2 linked regions of the Homo sapiens genome follow. The protein of the gene in region 1 purifies or fractionates together with the protein of each later gene. This does not show direct contact. Each region holds a gene or a part of one and is shown on either strand. Other genes may lie near its edges.

Region 1 (5,548 bases):
TATAACTTAAATTCTGGAACAACTGTGAGGCCAAGGTGGGTGGATCACCTGAGGCCAGGAGTTCGAGGCCAGCCTAGCTAACTTCGTGAAACCCTGTCTCTACTAAAAATACAAAAATTGGCCAGGCACAGTGGTGTGCATACCTGTAAACCCAGTTACTCAGGAGGCTGAGGCATGAGCATTGCTTGAACCTGAGAGTCAGAGGTTGCAGTGAGCTAAGGTTGCAGTGAGCTAAGATCACGCCACTGCACTCCAGCCTGGGGGACAGAACAAGACTCTATCTCAAAGTAATAATAATAATAAATAAAAGTTTTTTCTACAAATGTCGGGTATTGCTTTTATGAAATGGAAACTATGTTCACTATTTTTTAAAGGAACTCAACAGGGCAACAGAATAATTAAAATTCCAACTCTCAGTAAACCCTATTTATCCTTCCCCAACTAAGTTTGCTCAAGACAGTAAATAAATAAAAGGTGACCTAACATTATTACATGGATACTATAATTCATTTCGAAGTCATCAATAACAGGAAGGGCACAATTTACTAAGATTCTTACAAATCACTTTCATTCTTCAAGTACTTGTAATAGTTATGAGATCACAGCATCCTACAATTCACAGGTCAAGTACTGGATTGCTTCTAGCTTGTTATAAAACTTTAAAAGGAAGGAAACTACCATGATTTGGTTTCCACATGATGTTACATTGGCACAGCCTTGAGTGTTTTAATAGGTACAGCTACTACCACTCACCCCCAAAACCAGAGCAAGCGATTTTGACAAGTGATTTGAAAAAACACTGCTTTGTTCTCTGCCTAATTTCATTTCCCCAGGTTCAGGCAGGAAGTCAGGTTCTTAGTAATTCTTTGTCTCAGTATTTTGTTTTCACAAGGCAGAAAGTAGCATTTTTCTGGGGGTAGGTATATCTTAGTCTCAGGAATGGGATTGCAAAGGTTTGAAACAGACACACTCCTGTATCCCCAGATAAAGAATCAATGGGTCCATATTTCATGACATCCAAGAAACCATCAATTATAAGCAGTATCCTGATTCAGATATTAAAACATGAACAAAAACTACCCATTATAATCAATAAAACACAGTACGTTATTTAAGGTGATCATTAACATTTGGAATTTTTTTAAAGTATTTTTAGTTTAAAAGGCTCATACTACTGATGACAGTTTCAACCAGTAGAACTTTGGGGAAGATAACTTCAGACTATGTCACAAAACCCTTAGATTTATATACCCTTTAGCCCAACAATTCTACCTCAAGGAACTTTTCCTCAAGAAAAGCACTGGACAAATGTGGAAAGACAGACAAAGAAAAAGATTGCTACAGCACTGGTTATGCTAGTAAACCCTAGAAACACATTAGTTTTAAAATAGAAAACTGGGGAAACCAGGTATGGTACTTCTTTACGACAGAAAACGGTAATAATTCAAAAGGTCCAAGACCCTGAAAAATGTTCACGGCATAGTAAAAGCAAACAGCATATCACAGATCAGTTAGAAAAAAATCATGAGAAAATATATGCAAAGAAAAAAGTATAAAAGGAGTTTTAGAAAGAACTGAGAAAATGGAAAGAGAAAATTCGAATTAAACAAAAAATCTTCTGGCCGCAACGGCTCATGCCTGCAATCCCAGTGTTTTTGGAGGCCTAAGGAGGAGAACTGCTTGAGGCCAGGAGCTCAAGGCTAGCCTAGGCAACACAGTGAGACCCCCGTTTCTAAACAAAAAATTAGCTGAGAATTGGCAGTGCATGTCTGTAATCCCAGTTCCTCAGGAGACTGTGGCGGGAGGACTGTTCGAGCCCAGGAGTTCCAGGTTGCAGTGAGCTATGATTGTGCCACTGCACTCTCCAGCCTGGGTGACACAGTGAGACTCTGTCTCAAAAAAACTCCTTAGGTAAGATCTTGGTTGGTGTGCAGGGCAAGTGCAGGTGGTTCTGCAGCCAGAAACTATCAAACCTTCTAGCTCCCTGGACCTGACCTTCCACAGCTCCCTCTCCTCACGTACTTGTCAGGGCGGCGCAGGGGGCAGCTATGTTGATCAGGAGTGAATTCAAAGTTGGTCTACCATGAACTGGAAGATGCTTGAATACTCATCCCTGCTGCTATAATATCTTGGCAGAGAAACCATTAATTCTCTGTCTGGCATTTGCTGGAGTTAAAATATACCAAAGGAAAAGGCTGGAAGCAAAACAGCAAAACTGGAAGCTGAAGAGAGGCATCAATGAGAGAAGGAGATAACTGAAGAGTAATCCAGGGTATTTTGCTAAGCATTTCATGCACAGCTGTGTTGTTTGGGTCCTGACAACTCTATGAGATACTTTCGAATTGAAAGAATGGCTCACACTGTACATGGTGAAGAGCAGAACCAGAAACTGAACACAGGTCAAATGCATTCAACCACAGTGAGCTGTACTGCCTTCCTGAATTCACAATGTAAAAGTCAGTCTGAGTGGACTGCAGCTGAGAAGAGAAGACAATTATCCAAAAATGTGTCCGAGGATACACTCCCAACCTATACTTTTAAAAGAATGTGATTTTTTTTTTTTTTTTTTTTGAGACAGGGTCTCACAATGTTACCCAGGTTGGAATGCAGTGGCGCAATCCCAGCTCACTGCAACCTCGACCTCCTGGGGTCAAATGATCCTTCTGCCTCAGCCTCCCGAGTAGCTGAGACTACAGATGCCCAGCACCATGCTGGGCTAATTTTTGTATTTTCAGTAGAGATGGGTTTTCGCCATGTTGGCTGGGCTGGTCTCAAACTCCTGGGCTCAGGCAATCTGCTGGCCTCAGCCTCCCAAAGTGCTGGGACTGCAGGTGTGAACCACCACGCCTGACCAACAATGTATAAATGTTTATTTTTATAAACTTTTAAGAGAGCTATCATTTTATTTTGGTTAGGTGAGGTGGCTCACACCTGTAATCCCAGCACTTTGGGAGGCTGAGACAGGTGGATCACTTGAGGTCAGGAATTCGAGACCAGCCCAGCCAACATGGCGAAACCCTGTCTCTATGAAAAATACAAAAATTAGGTAGGCTTGGTGGTGCACGCCTATAATCCCAGCTACTTGGGAGGCTAAGGCACCAGAATTGCCTGAACCCAGGAGGCAGAGGTTGCAGTGAGCTGGGATTGCACTACTGCAATTCCAGCCTGAGTGACATTATGAGACCCACTGCACTCCAGCCTGGGCAACTGAACCAGACTCTGTCTCAAAAAAAAAAAAAAATTGTATTTTGTTTACTAAAATACCTTTGTAAAAATGGGGAGGAGTCTCCTGAAACTTACGTGAATTTTCCTTATTTGAGAGAACACACCAGGTGCCCAGTACACTGGGAGAAAACACACTCATATGAAGGCACATCATTGTGATATTTTAGATCTCTGGGAAAAAGAAGGTTCAACACATTTCCAGAAGTCAGGGGGTAGAGGGAGATAAATAATTGAAATAAAAATTTTTACAGCCAGGTGCAGTGGCCCATGCCTATAATCCCAGAACTTTGGGAGGCCGAGGTGGGCAGATCACTTGAGTTCAGGAGTTCGAGACCAGCCTGAGCAACATGGCGAAACCCTGTCTCTACAAAAAATACAAAAAAATCATCCACCAGGCATGGTGGCCCATGCCTGTGGTCACAGCTGGCTTGGGAGGCTGAGGTGGGAGGATCACTTGAGCCCAGGAGGGGTAGGTTGCACTGTGATCATACCACTACACTCCAGCCTGATGACAGAGTAAGACACTGTCTCAAACAAAACAAAACAAAATTAAATCAGAATAGCTAAAGGACAATAAAAGAATACATTTTAAATTCTGAAGAAAAACATTTTCAGTCTAACACTCTCTACCTAGTTGAACTAGGAATTGTGTATAGAATCAAGCTATTCTGAAAGGTGCAAATTTCCATTTCCACATGCATGCTTTCTTAGAAAACTACAAGAGGCTGTGTGTCCCCCCAGTGGGAGCAAAGCAAGACAGAGGACACTGGACATGGGAAGCAGAGGATCCAACCCAGGAAAGAAAGGAAGAGAATCTTCAGAGTGATGGTGCAGGAGAGCCCAGTCGGCCAGCTGTGTGCAGGCCACCAGGCCAGAGGCTCCCAGAGAGGCCAGTCATGAAGACGATTCTGACAGAATACCTGATGTCTCTCAGCTTCTTGATAGGAGACTTAAACAACTAGGGTTAAATTAGTGACTAAATATCTGGAGAAATTATGAAATGAGAAAAGAGAATTACTAACACCAGGGCAAACAAGAAATTGGGCAGGAAAGGAAAAGCATTCATAGTCTACGCACTGGGTCAGTTGTAAGTGGTATTTACAGTGTCATAGGTCAACACTGGCTGCTGATCTAACCCAAATCACCTGAAGACTATACAGATGCCCCTTGACTTAACAATGAGGTTACATCCTGATAAACCCATCCTAAGTGGAAAGTATCCGAAGTCAAAAATGCATTTAATACCCCTAGCCTACCAAACATCATAGCTAAGCCTAGCCTATCTTAAACGTGCTCAGAACACTTAGGTTAGCCTACAGCTGGCAGAATCACCCAGCAGCACAGCATGCTGGAGAGGATGGGTGGTTTGCGCTGGTGATGGCATGGGTGGCTGAGAGCTGACCAGCATCATGAAAAAATATCTACCGAATATCATTAGCCTGGGAAAAGACCAAAATTCAAAATTCGAAGTATGATTTCTACTGAATGCATACTGCTTTTACAACATCTGTAAAGCTGAAAATTCCTAAGTTGAACCATCAGAAGTGTTTGGACCTATATTGGGAGACAGGAAGAGGGTATGTATAATTGGAGGCAGGGAAGAGGGCATCCCAGCTAAAGCCTCATCTTTCAGAGTAGAAAGGCAATGGATAATGTCTATGACTGGGTGGGTGAGGGAACACCAATAAACAGCATTATAAACACGTTGTTTAGAGCTCAAAGAGATGAAGACACTGGGAGAAACTTATATTTCTGCCTGTAGGACCGAATCTTTAAAATATGTGCATAAGGTGGGGCACAGTGGTTCATGCCTACAATCCCAGCACCTTAGGAGGCCAAGGCAGGAGGATTGCTTGAGCCTAGGAGTTTCAGAGCAGCCTGGGCAACACAGAGAGACCCCGTCCCTAGAAAAAAATTAAAAATTATCCAAGTGTGTTGGTGCATGCCTGTGGTCTCAGCTACTTGGGAGGCTGAGATGGGAAGATCGCTTGAGCCCAAGAGGTCAAGGCGGCAGTGAACCATGATGGTGCCACCGCACCTCAGCCTGGGAGACAGAGCAAAACCCTGTCTCAAAACAAAACAAAACAAACAAAAAAGGTGCATAATTAGCTCTGTCAAAAATAAAAACTATAGTAGTAATAAGGGTGATTTTGCTTACATGTTTTCCCATCTTTTTCAAAACGCTTAATGAAATCTAAAAGGATACATGCTAACATGTCAACAGTGATTATTTCTAGTAATGGGATTGTGGGCCACTTACATTTCTTTCACTTTTGTATTTCCTGAAAAAGCGCAGTACACAGAGCATATCGATAATAAATCA
Region 2 (4,501 bases), on another chromosome or scaffold:
CCATCTCTGCTGGGAAAGCCACTCAAAGTTTGTAACGCTTTGTGACCGCAGCCACAGGATGCTAATGAAGCCACCTGACTGTCCCCTCCTGAAGGGTGGGGCCTGGGCCTTGCCCCATCTCGCATACCCGGCTCCCTGAGCATATGTGGCCCTGCGCGCAGGGGCCCCATGAGCTTGCCCGCTGCCCCTGCCTGCTTGTGCTGCCCGGGGCCAGCCTGGAAACCACCTTCCTTGGACTCACTGGTGATCAGCTCCCCCGACATCCTAGGAGGGGCCGCTGCGAGCGGTGAGGGGTAACCACCTGTGCCGGCCCCCTCCTCCCTGGCATGCCCCTCCTCTCTGCTTCCTCCTGCGTGACCTGCCCCTCAGGCCCACGGCCCCTCACTCCTCTACCCTCAGCTGCCTGCCCACTCGCTCACAGCAACTCCTGGGCAAGGCTTCATCCCACCCCCACCACCCCCAGGGACTCTGACCACTCTTCTTGTGACCCCCACTGTCCCTTGAACAGCTGTCTACCTGGAGACCCTTTGTAACACTTTAGTGCCCCTCCACAGTGAAGACTCCCTGAGTGCAGGTCTCCTGATTTACCTCGGGTTTCTGGTGCCCGGCTCAGAGTTCAGGGCACATTGGTTAAATGAGTGAATGAATGAGTGATTCCTTGTCACTTCTCTACCTGTCCCTCCACCCCAGTCTCCCCCTCACTCCATTACTCCCCAGCCCTGTCCAAACCCCTGGCTGGGGACACAGGTGATCTGTGGATTCCTTGCTGTGGCCTTCCGAGGGAGGTCGAGCGGCAAGGTTTGAACCAGAGCCCCCCCACCCGGGTCTTGGCTTTCTTAGGAGTGTGGGGAGTTGGCATCAGATGATAGGGCCAGGAACGCCGGGGTGAACCTTGGTCAATCCTGGTATCACTAGTCTCTTTTATGAGCCCTGCCTCTGTTGCCCCAGGATGAACAGTCAGAGACACGTTGGTCTCTCACCTTGACCTTGGCCCACCTGCCACGTACATCTAGGGACAATGGCTGTTGCCAGCACAGACAGGCGGGAAGCCAAGGGCTGAGGCTTGCATATGTGCGTGGCTGGCGCCCTCCCCGCTGGACCTACCCTGATGTTGAGGCTGGCCACCACCACCTCTCCTGAGGGCGTGACGATGGGGATGTTCTCGCAGATGATCCCCTGTTCCACATCCACCACCTGGCCTGCAGAGACAGCACAGCGGGGCTGGGGTGGAGAGGGAGTGGTGGCGACCCCTCTGCATTCTGGGGAGTCTGCGTGCCCCTGGCTGCACGCCCTCATTCCCATCCCTGGCAGCATGCCAGCTGGTTCCTGACCAGCAGCCTGTGGTCCAGGGTCCCTAGGGAACACAGCCAGGTCTTCCAACAAGCTGAACTCTTCCCCCAGTGTCTAATACAGTGCCCTGGGCCGCCACTCCCTTCTGCAGCACCTGCCTCCCGTGGCAGCCAGCAGCTGGCACACTGACTGGAACTTTCTCTTGCTGTCCTGCATGGGTGAGGGGACCACATCCCCCTTGTTTTGAATGAATAATCCAGGCTGAGGCCCTCAAAGGGCGAGTCAGTACGGTGGCCGGCAGCTACTGTCTGGGAAGGAAGGCGGGCGGACCAGCACCTCTCTGCAGGAAACCCTCCAGGGGCCCAGCTCGACCAGGCCGAAGTCCTCAAAGACCCTGCCCGGCAGCCCTCCCGTCCTGGGTGGACTGGGATGGGCCAGAAGCACATGGAGGTCCCTGAGTGAGGGAGCGGGAATAGGAGGAGCTGGGGCAGCAGGTCAGCACCTGCAGCAGCAGCAGGGGCGGGGTCACTCATAGGGAGGGGACAGCCTTACCTCGGATCTTCAGGGGGCCCTCCACACGGACACCAGACCGGCCTATGGTCCCAGACCCCGCCTGAGCGTCCTCTAGCTCCCTGGGCCTCTTGAAGTGACAGCGCTGAACATCTTCAAATACCTGGAACATCTCGTGCACCCGGGCTGTGTAGCCAGCCAGCTCCGTCACCTGAGGGAGGGTGACCCTGGCTCAGCCCCTGCCAGTTGCAGGGAGAGAAGCATGGCAAGGATGGCAAGGGTGGGGCTGGGCCAGGGGTACCTCCTTGTACGACGACATGATCCGCTCAATGGCATCTGCAGCCGCTGTCAGGAGGTTGCGGGCAATAGTGAAGGCTTCTGTGCGCTCGCTCACCAGCTCCTCCTCCTTCTTTTCCAAGGCTGCCTTCTTCACGGCCTCTGCATCTGCAAAGCCCCAGAGGGGTGGGTGGCGGGGCGGGGAGGGGCAGGGCAGAGACAGCGGAAAGTCAAAAATGAGCCGCTGGAGAGAAAGGCGAGGCTCTTCTGCAAATGGTGCCGGGGCAACCAGCTCTCTCTCTCTTTCTCTCTATGTGCAGGAGAGGGACCCCTCACACCATACAGACAAACCAACCCAGAGCACATCACAGGCTGATGTGTAGTGTGGCCCAAAGTATGAAACTCTCAGAAGAAAATGGGATAAAACTTCACGACCTTGGATATGGCAATAGTTCCTTCACTAGGACACCAAAAGCATGAGCAACAAGAGAAAAACAGATCAACTGAACCTCATTCAACTCAACACTTTTGTGCACCAAAGGACAATATCGAGACAGTGAAAAAGACAACCTACAGACTGGGAGAAAACTCTGGACTGGTGAACCACACATCTGATGAGGGTGCAGTATCCAGAATATACAAAGAGCTTTTACAACTCAGCGACAGAGATAACCCGATCACACATGGGCGAAGGACGTGAACAGACATTTCTCCAAAGAAGACATACAAATGGCCACTCAACACATCAAAAGAGGCTCAGCGTCATTAGTCATCAGGGAAATGCAAATCAAAACCACCAAGAGATACTGCCTCACACCCACTAGGTGGCTAGAATACAAAGGAGATGATAACCAGTGCTAGCCACGATGAAAAGGTGGAACCCTCCAACACTGCTGGCGGGAAGGTAAAATGGGGCAGCCACTGTGGAGAACAGTCTCGCAGCTCCTCAAAAAGTGAAACGTCCAGTTACCATGTGACCTGGCAATTCTACTCCTAGCTACACACCCAGGAGAAACGAAAATATCTGCACACATAGAGACTTGTCCATGGATGTTCACAGCAGTGTTATTCACAATAGCCAAAACATGAAGAAACCCAAAATGTCCATCAAGGGATGAATGGATAAAGAAATTGTGGTCTATGCACACAATGGAATATTATTCAGCCATGAAAAGGAATGAAGGACTGATTCATCTTATGACATGGACGAATCTTGAAACCATGATGCTCAGTGAAGGAAGCTAGTCACAAAATGCCACAGAGCACATGATTCCATTTCTAGGACATGTCCAGATAGGCAAATCCACAGAGACAGGAAGCAGATGAGTGGGTGCCAGGGGCTGGAGAGAGGGAATGAGGAGTGACTGTTCATGGGTCTGGGGTTTCTTTGGGGGATAAAATAAAAATAAAACATTCTGGAGTTAGTGATGATGGCTGCACAACTCTGTGAATGAATTTAAACTGTACATGGAAAAGGAAGAATTGTATAGTATGTTAATTACGTCTCAATAACGTTGATTTTTAAATGCACCAGTAGGCATCTGGTTTTGTTTCTACGTACAGCCAGCTCCTTCCACCGGCCCTCTGTCCTGCACCACTGATGTCGCCCCTCCTGGGGCACATCTGAACTTTGTCATCCAACGCCCAGAGCTGTTTGGCTTTGAAACGCCAACTTTCTTTTTTTTTTCTTTTCTTTTTTTTGAGATGGAGTCTTGCTCTGTTGCCCAGGCTGGAGTGCAGTGGTGTGATCTTGGCTCACTGCAACCTCTGCCTCCCCAGGTTCAAGGGATTCTTGTGCCTCAGCCTCCCGAGTAGCTGGGATTACAGGCACCCGCCACCAAGCCCAGCGAATTTTTTTTGTATTTTTAGTAGAGACGAAGTCTCACCATGTTGGCCAGGCTGGTCTCAAACTCCTGAACTCAGGTGATCCACTTGCCTTGGCCTCCAAAGATGCTGGGATTGCAGGCATGGGCCACCACGCCCGGCCTAATGTCCCACTTCCTGACCGCCCCCTCTAGGCCATGGTTTTTGACCTCTGGGCCAGCAGCCGTATTGTTTGGTGTCTGCTTCTCCCAGGAGCTGCTCCTGTCTTAATTTGCTTTTCTGTCACACTCTAGGCCCCGTGGCAGCACCCCTGACCCTCATCAATGGCCTTGACTCTCAGTTTCTTGATCCTTAGATTCCCCACAGGAGCAGAGGTGGGGAGCAAGGGCGAAGGCCGCCTCTGAGGGTGCTGGGGTGTGGCTGAAGTGGTGGGAATGTCCTGTGAAGGACCCGAGGACTGTATCCAGGGGTGGGTGTGATCCTGAGGGGGAAGCCTCAGGGATCATTGGCTGGGGGCTGGGGGAAGACACGGAACGCAGTATCCGCTCAGGGCCATGCAGGGTGGAAAGGGGCCTGGCCCGGGAAACCAGGGAACTAGATT

Evidence for each region. The genes of interacting proteins can lie anywhere in the genome.
Region 2: the proteins of CMTM8 (region 1) and ABCD1 purify together in Homo sapiens (affinity purification with mass spectrometry; one large-scale study listed by BioGRID and IntAct). This does not show direct contact.

Annotation. Positions count from the first base shown.
Region 1 is NC_000003.12:32,240,554-32,246,101, reverse strand, and holds part of CMTM8 (CKLF-like MARVEL transmembrane domain-containing protein 8), read right to left. Parts: intron 1-5,548.
Region 2 is NC_000023.11:153,733,855-153,738,355, reverse strand, and holds part of ABCD1 (ATP-binding cassette sub-family D member 1), read right to left. Parts: intron 3,505-4,501; exon of another isoform or gene 2,245-3,504; coding exon 2,102-2,244; exon of another isoform or gene 2,012-2,101; coding exon 1,843-2,011; exon of another isoform or gene 1,745-1,842; coding exon of another isoform or gene 1,445-1,744; exon of another isoform or gene 1,200-1,444; coding exon 1,105-1,199; exon of another isoform or gene 1-1,104. UniProt on the Homo sapiens protein: ATP-dependent transporter of the ATP-binding cassette (ABC) family involved in the transport of very long chain fatty acid (VLCFA)-CoA from the cytosol to the peroxisome lumen.